Linked DNA regions of Homo sapiens: region 2 is linked to region 1. Evidence: fine-mapped expression QTL. Tissue or cell type: whole blood. Region 1 holds a variant in brackets; the other region holds the start of a gene. Each region is shown on its reference strand, or each on the opposite one.

The links. PIP is the estimated chance that this variant, and not a neighbour inherited with it, causes the effect.
Region 2: ATP2B1 starts here. The variant in region 1 is fine-mapped to the expression of ATP2B1 in whole blood (TOPMed, PIP 0.97).

The regions. Positions count from the first base shown.
Region 1 is chr19:35,447,118-35,452,481 of GRCh38, forward strand. It overlaps FFAR2 (free fatty acid receptor 2), which reads left to right and starts at 1,140. Exons shown (of 2, transcript NM_001370087.1): 1 at 1,140-1,262; 2 at 2,597-4,650. The coding sequence starts at 2,598. The coding sequence ends at 3,590. The variant T/A (reference allele first, on the strand shown) is at 3,229.
Region 2 is chr12:89,706,224-89,711,587 of GRCh38, forward strand. It overlaps ATP2B1 (ATPase plasma membrane Ca2+ transporting 1), which reads right to left and starts at 2,615. Exons shown (of 21, transcript NM_001366521.1): 1 at 2,373-2,615. It overlaps ATP2B1-AS1 (ATP2B1 antisense RNA 1), which reads left to right and starts at 2,732. Exons shown (of 1, transcript NR_028138.1): 1 at 2,732-5,364. RefSeq lists enhancers at 1,494-1,583, 1,594-1,693 and silencers at 1,884-2,113, 2,264-3,283, 3,304-3,853.

The DNA.
Region 1 (5,364 bases):
GAAACAGTGAGACTTTATCAGGGAAAGGAATGGAGCCTGAGTGCCACTCCCTGACGAAAAGCCACATGGGCACGTGAACTCGGGCCTCCTGAATTCCTGACACTTTCCCAAGAGGGACAGCACATCCATGCCCTGAGCCTCTGGAGGCTGCACCAAGTGGCTCACTCTCTGTGAAGCTGCGTTACAGGCTTGAGACGAGGCAGCACTTACGGGCATCTGCTAAGTGCTTTATATACACAACCTCACTGAATCCTCGCAGAAGTCCTAGGATGTCAGAATTCGCATGCTCACTTGACTACAGCAAACTAGACTTCAGAAAACGGATCTGCCCCCAAGGTTGTAATGAAGGGACCTGGATTTGAGCCCATATCTGCATGACTATAACTCCCACACCATTTCCATCACAACAAGATGCAGGCCAGGACCAGCCTGTTTCAGCTGAGACGGGCAAAAGAAATGTGTTGGGGGCAGAGGGCAGGAGACCATAGAGAAAGTAAAAAAATTGAAGAAGAAAAGGAAGGAGTGCCGGGTGCAGTGGCTCACGCCTGTAATCGCAGCACTTTGGGAGGCCAAGGCAGGCGGATCACTTGAGGTCAGGAGTGCAAGACCAGCCAACATGGTGAAACCCTGTCTCTACTAAAAATACAGAAATTAGCTGGGCGTGGTGGCAGGTGCCTGTCATCCCAGGGAGGCTGACGCAGGAGAATCGCTTGGACTCGGGAGGCAGAGGTTGCAGTGAGCTGAGATGGCGCCACTGCACTCCAGCCTAGACAACAGAGCAAGATTCAGCCTCGAAAAAAAAAACCAAAAAAAAAGAGGAAAAATAAAAAGGAAGGAGGAAAGCTCATTTCTGAGAATGAGCAGAATGACAGAAGAAACTGCCTAAGAAAGAGAAAAGAAAATAATCTGACTTGGGAAGTAAAAAAAGAAAAATGCCTGGGAATTTTTTTTTTAAATCAGGAATTAAGGACAGAAAAATCTGAATTTGGAAGTCAAGAGTGAGGATTCTCTAGGGAGAGAATAAAGATGCTGGGCCTTTCCTTTGGGTTTGAGAGGAAATAGTGCTTAAAGACTGACCTTCCTTTCTCTGGTCACGTGGCTGGTGCTAGTATAAATGCTTACTACCAGCCAGGTTCCTCACCATTTTTTCCTGCATGGCATGGACAGAAGCAGGGGCTAAAGCTCTGTTCCTCTCTCCTGGAAGCTTGCAGACCTCCCTTCAGAACCAATCCCAAGAAGCCACCTATCCGGAACAACACAAGGCAAGGCAGCTAGTGTAGTGCTTGTGCTCTGGGAAGAGAGGCCAGGATCAGGTTTGAGGGGAAGGTTCTGGGAGACTGGAGGAAGGATGTCAGAACCAAATGGAAGACTCATACCCAGAGACAGGAGCTAGTGTGAGGAGCAAGGAAACAGCCAGGAAATCAAGGCTGGAGAGTGGACAGAGGGACAGGACCTGGGTTGGGGCCAGCAAGGGTGACACCCCAAGTGGAAACTGAGTTACCCCGTGAAGAAGACGAGTTCTATTTATGGTCAGAATGCCACGCTCAAGGGCCAGTGAAGGCCTGTGGGCTTTTCTGAATATTTCTCTAAGGTCTTCTAGGGACAAGCCTTCCTCCTAAGGCTAGTGCTGGTTCATCCTTCTTCCCCTCCACCCTCCTCTAAGCCTCCCAGCTTCCCCTTTTCTTTTCTTTTTTTTTTTTTTTAGACGGAGTTTTTGCTCTTACCGCCCAGGGTGGAGTGCAATGGCGCAATCTTGACTCACTGCAACCTCTGCTTCCCGGTTCAAGCGATTCTCCTGCCTCAGCCTACCAAGTAGCTGGGATTACAGGTGCCCGCCATATCACCCGGCTAATTTTTTTTTTTTTTAGTGGAGATGGGGTTTCACCACGTTGGCCAGGCTTGTTTCGAACTCCTGACTTCAGGTGATCTGCCCGCCTCGGCCTCCCAAAGTGCTGGGATTACAGAAGTGAGCCACTGCGCCCAGCCCCAGCTTCCCCTTTTCTAGAGAGTCCCAGAGTTTGGTGTTGGACAGGAGAGGACAAGGTGGGGGAGAATCTGTGCTCTGCAAAACAGACGAACGGAAGTAGGAAGCTGGGCTGGTGGCTGGGCACTTGGGTCCTTTGGAGAGCTGGCACTGGGTATCCGCGCCTGGGGCGCCACAGCCTCTTTATACTGATAAGCATCTTACAGCTCTCTCCCGGCACTGATGCCTTTCTCTCCTGCAGGTCTCTGTCTGAGAAAGGGACTTGAGTAAAGTTAGAAACTGGCAACAGTAACTTCCTGTATCTGTGAGGACAGGAGGAGAAAGGCTAGGGAAACTGGAGGGGGAATTCCCTTGGGAAGCCACGAGTTGGTCTCCTCCAGAGACACATGATGGCAAACATAATCACTACTGCTTAATATCCCGCCCCAGGCAAAGTCAATAATTGCTCTGGGTAGTTCGAGCAGGTGGTGTGAGCAAGCCGTGGTGGCATCAGAAAGCACAGTCCTGGGAAGGGGACGGTGCCGGGGAGGATGTCCGCATCCTGAAGGAGAGCTGGCTGCGCGGGCTGTGAGTGAGACCTCCCTGACCCCGCCCTTTTTTGTTCCCCTCCAGGATGCTGCCGGACTGGAAGAGCTCCTTGATCCTCATGGCTTACATCATCATCTTCCTCACTGGCCTCCCTGCCAACCTCCTGGCCCTGCGGGCCTTTGTGGGGCGGATCCGCCAGCCCCAGCCTGCACCTGTGCACATCCTCCTGCTGAGCCTGACGCTGGCCGACCTCCTCCTGCTGCTGCTGCTGCCCTTCAAGATCATCGAGGCTGCGTCGAACTTCCGCTGGTACCTGCCCAAGGTCGTCTGCGCCCTCACGAGTTTTGGCTTCTACAGCAGCATCTACTGCAGCACGTGGCTCCTGGCGGGCATCAGCATCGAGCGCTACCTGGGAGTGGCTTTCCCCGTGCAGTACAAGCTCTCCCGCCGGCCTCTGTATGGAGTGATTGCAGCTCTGGTGGCCTGGGTTATGTCCTTTGGTCACTGCACCATCGTGATCATCGTTCAATACTTGAACACGACTGAGCAGGTCAGAAGTGGCAATGAAATTACCTGCTACGAGAACTTCACCGATAACCAGTTGGACGTGGTGCTGCCCGTGCGGCTGGAGCTGTGCCTGGTGCTCTTCTTCATCCCCATGGCAGTCACCATCTTCTGCTACTGGCGTTTTGTGTGGATCATGCTCTCCCAGCCCC[T/A]TGTGGGGGCCCAGAGGCGGCGCCGAGCCGTGGGGCTGGCTGTGGTGACGCTGCTCAATTTCCTGGTGTGCTTCGGACCTTACAACGTGTCCCACCTGGTGGGGTATCACCAGAGAAAAAGCCCCTGGTGGCGGTCAATAGCCGTGGTGTTCAGTTCACTCAACGCCAGTCTGGACCCCCTGCTCTTCTATTTCTCTTCTTCAGTGGTGCGCAGGGCATTTGGGAGAGGGCTGCAGGTGCTGCGGAATCAGGGCTCCTCCCTGTTGGGACGCAGAGGCAAAGACACAGCAGAGGGGACAAATGAGGACAGGGGTGTGGGTCAAGGAGAAGGGATGCCAAGTTCGGACTTCACTACAGAGTAGCAGTTTCCCTGGACCTTCAGAGGTCGCCTGGGTTACACAGGAGCTGGGAAGCCTGGGAGAGGCGGAGCAGGAAGGCTCCCATCCAGATTCAGAAATCCTTAGACCCAGCCCAGGACTGCGACTTTGAAAAAAATGCCTTTCACCAGCTTGGTATCCCTTCCTGACTGAATTGTCCTACTCAAAGGAGCATAAGTCAGAGATGCACGAAGAAGTAGTTAGGTATAGAAGCACCTGCCGGGTGTGGTGGCTCATGCCTATAATCCCAGAACTTTGGGAGGCTGAGGCAGGTGGATCACTTGAGGTCGGGAGATTGAGAACATCCTGGTCAACATGGGAAAACCCCGTCTCTACTAAAAATACAAAAAAATTAGCTGGGCATGGTGGCACATGCCTATAATCCCAGCTACTCTGGAGGCTGAGGCAGGAGAATCCTTGAACCCGGGAGTTGGAGGTTGCAGTGAGCTGAGATCACGCCACTGCACTCCAGCCTAGCGACAGAGCAAGACTCCATTTAAAAAAAAAAAAAAAAAAAAAAAGAAGCACCTTCAGGCTGGAGAAGCAGCGTAGCTAACACAAGTCCAGTCCTTGTGATGTGGCTGGTAGTTGGGGATGGCCAGGCTGAAGCAGAGAGTCCTAGAGAAATCTCGATACAAGCTTCAAAGCAACACCTAGACACTGCTCTAGCGGTTGATCCTGGAGATAAACCAACAAGAGAGAGATGGAAGAGAAATACTAAATGAGGTCAAAGAAGACTCAGAAAGGTTCTGAGCCTGGAGATGAGCAGGGAGGCCTCAGGGCTTAGACCTTTAATGATAGGGGTTTCCCTGCATTGGTTTGACCTGTTGCCTTTTTGATGTGCTCTGTTTGTTTTCATGTGTTGTCTTGTCTCCCCTGCTAAACTGGGAGCTGCCAGGGGTCTGGGTCTTATCTCCTTCCTCCATGGTACCCCACACAGGCCAGGATGTGGTTTGGTACCCAGCAATCAGAGATTGGCACTCCCTCATACAGGGGAAAGCAACCTGGTCTAGCAAATTGAAAATAAAGATGATAAAACTCTGAAGTGAATGTCCACAATTTTTGTAACACTGCTGCAAGCACAGGGAGGGCAAAAATAGGAGAGAGAACCAGATTCAGCAGCAAAGGGGAAAAGTGATGCATCTGAAACCACAGAAACATCTTAAGATAAAGAGGTGGTGTGGGCAAAGGAAGTGAGAGCACTGACGGAATCGTCTTTCGAGGGATGAATAGAGAGTCCGGACTTAGAAAGGATGCAGGGTGATTCCGATTCACAGTCATCTGTCTGCCACAGGGCCTTAAAACATGTCACCCTCCTGCTCAGAAACCTGCAGAGCTTTCCTATCATCAAAATGTTTCCTTGGCCAGTTGCAGGGGCTCATGACTGTAATCCCAGCACTTTGGGAGGCTGAGGTGGGAGGATCACTTGAGCCCAGGAGTTGGAGACCCACCTGGGCAACACAGTGAGACCCTGTCTCTCAATTTTAAAAATTTAATTTAAAAAGATGCGTCCGGCTGGGCACAGTGGCTCATGCCTGTAATCCCAGCAGTTTGGGAGGCCAAGGCGGGAGGATCGCCTGAGGTCAGAAGTTCTAGACCAGCCTGGCTAACATGGTAAAACCCCATCTCTACTAAAAAGACAAAAAAAATTAGCCGGGCATGGTGGTGCGTGCCTGTAATCCCAGCTACTGAGGAGGCTGAGGCAGGAGAATCACTTGAACCTGGGAGGCAGAGGTTGCAGTGAGCCGAGATTGCGCCA
Region 2 (5,364 bases), not on the chromosome of region 1:
GTACACCTGCTCGAAGTGTTCATCTATATTATTTAAGAACAAGCAACTGTAAAACAGTAAAATCACAAAAGGTAAGTTGTTGGAAGACAACAAAAAAGAATTACTATATCTGATCCTGCGTGTTTATTTTAGAATCTGTTAATAGGCCTACAGCTAAAAAAAAAAAAAAAATTGTAAAGCCACTGTCATACTGGTAGGTACCTTTATTTGGTGGCAATGGCTAGTTCAAACCACCTATTAAAAGCAGCTATTACTTTCCTTCTTTTACCAAGAATATCCAGACCATCAATATTATTATAAACACAAATCAAAACTAGTTTCTCATCTCATCTCAGAATGCTAAAATCCCAAGCTTCAATAAAAAAAAGATTTCCCATACAATTGCAGAAATTTCTCTCAAAAGAGAAATGAGAGAATACAGAAAAATGAAGACAATTCCCCCTTACACGTCAAAATGGGGATGCCAATAATGACAGCTGCGATAAAAATCAAGAAGGCGTACCCCGAATTTTCACCATTTTAATAAAAGAAAATCACGAAATTTTAAATTAAAGGTGGCGCTCTGTCCTCAACTCACCCGAATGTGACTCACTTTTGCAGACTATATGGTAGGAAATTAACAGTTACTTTTCAAAGATCTTTGCAGTTACACCCAAGCCAAAATCAGGACAGAGATCCACCCTTAATTACAGCAATTTAGCTGTCTTATCTAAAGCAAGGTAAAAACTAAAACGTCCTCCTGAAATCATAGCTAAATAAGCCCATTTCATATACTAGCTATCAAAGGTTCCCAATTAAAAAAAAAATGTTTCTATTTACTTCAAATTTGAACTCACCAGGAGGATAAAGAAAAAGAGAGGGGAGGAGGAGGACCCAAATGAAACGCACAAGTACAAAAAGCAGATTCTCCTCCAATCCCTCTTAATTCCCCCAATCCACCCCTGCCACACACAAGGACAGGGAGTCTCGGGAAGGCTGGCATCGGGGCAAGTGGTGAAGGCCCTCCATTCACTCACGTGGGCCACCATCCAAAGGGTTACACACCCTCTGCCAGATGAGAGCCTCATACAAACCAGGCCCTTACAAGTACTTCTTATTATAAAATACACCCACGCTGAACAAAAGCCTTATTTTAAAATAAGACTGTCCTCAGGTGGGGGAGGTTAAACACAACAAAGGCTTCCATGTTGACAGGCAGACAAGTTCAGATATATGCATATACCTACACACGTATGAAAAAAATCTATGTAGCTAATTTATCACGAACAGCAATCGATACCAACAGAAGCCATTAGATTATTAATAAACCAAGAAAAGTAGCGGGCACAGAAGCGAAAGGTGGCTGTCTGCAGCGCTCTAACCCAAAGAAAAGGTAAATATCAGCCTGTCGAGGAGGGTCGAGCCCTCCAAGTACCTGCAGACCCCTTTAACCCACCCGGACGCCCTGCCCTCCCCTCCGAGCCAAGCAGCGCACAGGGTGCGAGCACTCCCAGCGCTGCGAGTCCCGCAGAAAACTGGTGAATGAAATGCGCACAGAGACCAACCTGGCTGGTGACCGCGGCGCAGAACCAGGGGTCGCTAACCAGCTTAGCCACAGGATTCTCCCGCAGGATGGGATAAAGAGAGCACAGCCCCCACCCCACACCCCTGCCACTGGAACGCGGTCCTCCTACAGACTCCTTCCTCAAAAAGGGAGGTGGGGGCGCAGGCTTTTTTCTCTTAAACTAAGTGAATAAACACGAATCGGAAACAACTGTGAACATCCTGGGGGGCCAGACGGAAGGCGTGAGGAGAAAGACCAGGCGGCTCTCCAACTCCCGAGGAATCACCGTCCTGACACGCCAACAATCAACCACCAGGGCCAGGGGCCGACCAGGGGCCCCCGCTCCCCTCCCGCAGTGCGTCTGGGGGGCCGAGGCCAAGGATTAGAGGGGTGACCCTCCCGGGGCGCGGGGAGAGGGAGTGCCGGGCACGGTGCCCTCAAGGTCACCACGCGCCGTGGCGGGGGCGACCGGTGGCGGGATGGGCTGTGGCGCGGCCGAGGCGGCTTCGTGAAGCCGAAGACCTGCGGGTGTAGACCAGAAGCCCCAACAAGCCCCATCCCTCGGGCCCGGAGCAGCGACTCCCAGACTGACCCGGCGCTGAGGTGCACGGCGAGAAGCCCGCTCACCTTCACAATCTCCCGGCAAGAGGCAACCTGCGAGGGGCCCCGACCGCCCCCGTCAGCTTCTCCCGAATCCGGCGCAACCCGCTGCGCACCCAGCTATCAGGATCCCCGCCGCGACGCCCGACCTCCGTGCTCCGCCTGGCCTCCCCCGCAGGTGACCTGCCCCGCCGCCCCCGGCCGCGGGCGGGCGGCGGCCGCCACTCACCTCGCCCGGCAGTGGGAACCATTTTCCGAGGGGGAAGGAAAGGCAGGCTGCGGGAGGGTCGCGGGGCGTTAAGGGGCAGCGGGAAACGCAGAGGATGGGGGCTCCGTCCTCAGCGCGTCCGCAGCCGGCTCGCAGGGCTCGGGGCGCCACGCGGAGGTGCAGCTGCACCTCGGGGATGGGGCGGCCAAGGAGCCGAGAGGCTCGGCGTCCACCAGCCGGGGCTCCCTACTCACGCTGCACTGCGAGGAGGCGGCGGCGGCAGCGAAGGAGGAGGAGGCGGCGCCCGGCCGTCCCCGCCCAGAGCCCGGCAGCCACCGAGTGGCCGCCCGCGTCCCCGCAGGACCCGCCTCCTCGGCTCCGCAGAGCGGCACACAGGGCGCGCCGCGCTCGCTCGGCACGGGCAGCTCAGCCGGCCTCACGCCGCCGTCCGCAACAGCAGCCGCGGGCGGGGTGCAGCCACCTCCGTGAGCGCCGCAGCCCGCCCCACTCGGGGCGGGGCCCGCGGGCACCGGAGAGCGGACGGCCGAGCACGAGGGGGCTGCGCGCAGCTCCGGGCAGGGACCCCGTCTGCACCGGGTGGCCTGCAAGATTGCCGGGGTAGGCAGGGGGAGGAGAACGCTCACCCGTTCCGGTCTGGCGCTCCCTTTTCTCCACACCCACACGCCTCCCGCTCCACGCTGGCGGCGCAGCTGCTCCCGCTGCCACAGCCGCCACCGCCGCCGAAGCTCGCGCCGCCGCCGCTGCCGCCTTGGCTGAGCGCGGTCACGTGACGCGATCCGCGGGGAGCCTGGGGGCGGGCGAGTGCGCGCGCGCGCGCGCGGAGGAACCGCGGCTCGGACCGGGACTGGGAGCTGAGCGGCACTGGGAGGGCGTTTAAGGGGAGGACCCGGCGAGCGCGCCCTCGGCTGGCGAGCGCGCGCCTGGCGATTAGAACTTGCCGCGCGGTCGGGAAAGGGTGGCCGGAGTGAGGGGCGGAGGTGGGGACTTGCGCCTCCGCACGCCCCTCCCTTTCTTCCTTCCCCTGAGCGCCTTGGCTTGCCGCTGCCCCCGCCCCCTCCAGCGCGCCCCTTCCCTCCTGCCGCAGCCTGCGATTGGCTGAGAGGCTCTGACGTCCGTGTTTCCATGACGTGTTGGTGCAGGAGGGAGCGGCGGGGGAGGAGGGGGTGGCCAGGCGCGCGGGGAGGTGACTCCGTCAGTCACAGCTGCTGTTTCGGCGCGGGGCCGGGCCGCTGCCGCGACGTGTGGAGGCAGGAGAGCGATGATTGCCGCAGGAGAAGTGCGGGCGCCCTTCACCTGGGGCCCCTCCCGAACCGCCCCCGGGCCCATGCCCCTCCAGGGCCCAGGAGCGAGCCAGCGGGAGGGCGAGGGCGAGCGCTCCTGGCGAGGACAGATTAAGGCGAACCCCCAGTCAGCGGACATTTGAGCGGCTCCTCGCCGCGTCTCTGCCCCCACTCCAAACCGGACTCGACGCCTGTCCCGGGCCGTGACGCACGCACCGGAGGAAAAAGTGCTTCTCGGCTCGCTCCCTCTTTGGGGAAGAGAGCTCACTCCCCATGCGGGCGCGGGACACTCCATCTCTGTTCCTGCCGGTCGGGTCCGCAAACACCGGGGATCCCAGCTGCGGCGCCCAAAGGGTTAACGCAGGCGTTCGGCCAGTGCAAACCGGCCTCGCAGGATCCGCGCTTAAAATCCGGGTGTTTTCATTTTGGGTTTGTTTCTTCTACTATGCCAAGCTGGTGGCTCTCTTTTAATTCTCTTGTAACATCTCAACCCTGCACCCATCTTTCCTGAGGGGAAAAGGAAACGGGATAACTTGCGGTATTTCGATGCTCAAAGGTAACCGGCGGCTCTGCTCCAACCTTCAAGAGATTTTGCAAGTTGAAAAAAAAAAAAAAACCATCCTTCGTAACATCTACTTAAAAAAAAAAAAGCAAGTTTTCCTTCTTGTACACGCATATACACAGTAAAGATGTGTATCTTACCTAAGATACCGCGCTTCATCTTCATCTAATCTTTATTTGAACTCACCGTCGCCACTGGCCCAGAGACCTTGTCAGTGTTATTTTCAGTATCAGTTAATCAGAACAAAAAGATAAGTTCTGCAATCTTCTTTCTCTTAATTCCAGAACTGGAAAATTAATATTTATATAGCCTCCTCAAAAGCATACAGGCAATAGGAAGTATGGTATTATGTTCACGATCTGATGATAGCATTTGTTTTAAAATATTTTAAAAGATTAGACACAAAATGTGTAAAAGACGTTTAAAAGTGAATAAATATAAATCAATGCTGTTGCAAATAATTTTTTTATCAGTTTATGTATCTCACTAGGCTTGACATTACCAGCCTTCTGAGCTGTGCCCTTGATGTGTAAGATAAACGAACATTGAACAGAATGATAGCATTTTTCCTCTCTTCAGTCACTGATGGAGAATTGGTTAATGTGGTACAATAAATAGCCCTTCCTGACACTATTTCAAATCTTTTTAACAGAAGAATAACCTAAATTTCACCTAATAAATTTCAATATTATTTCCCCCTAAAATATCTTTCAAAACGACTCAGAGACATTTAAGAATCACTGGCTTTTTTCCAACTTTTCCTCCAAGGAAGTTACAATACAATGTTGAATTATGTATTCTACTTTAATCAAGAATTTGACATTAAAGTAATATGTGAATCATTGCTATAGTACACTAGCAAAATGGGTAATAAACTAGAATCTGTTCACTTTGTGGGTTTGTTCCAGTTCCAGATTATAAAATGAATGCTCTTAAAGTGTTGTGGTCATGAAACAATTATTGAGCATCTTTATTTAAGAACACGATTCAATTAAGTTTTCATTTATATCGATAAATCTATAAATGAAACATACGGAATATATATATTCATGTATATCCATAAATGAAAACGTGTGTGTGTGTGTATCCCGGAACATATTTGTATGCATTTTAATGAAATGTGAGTCATATGCAATGACAAACTTTTACT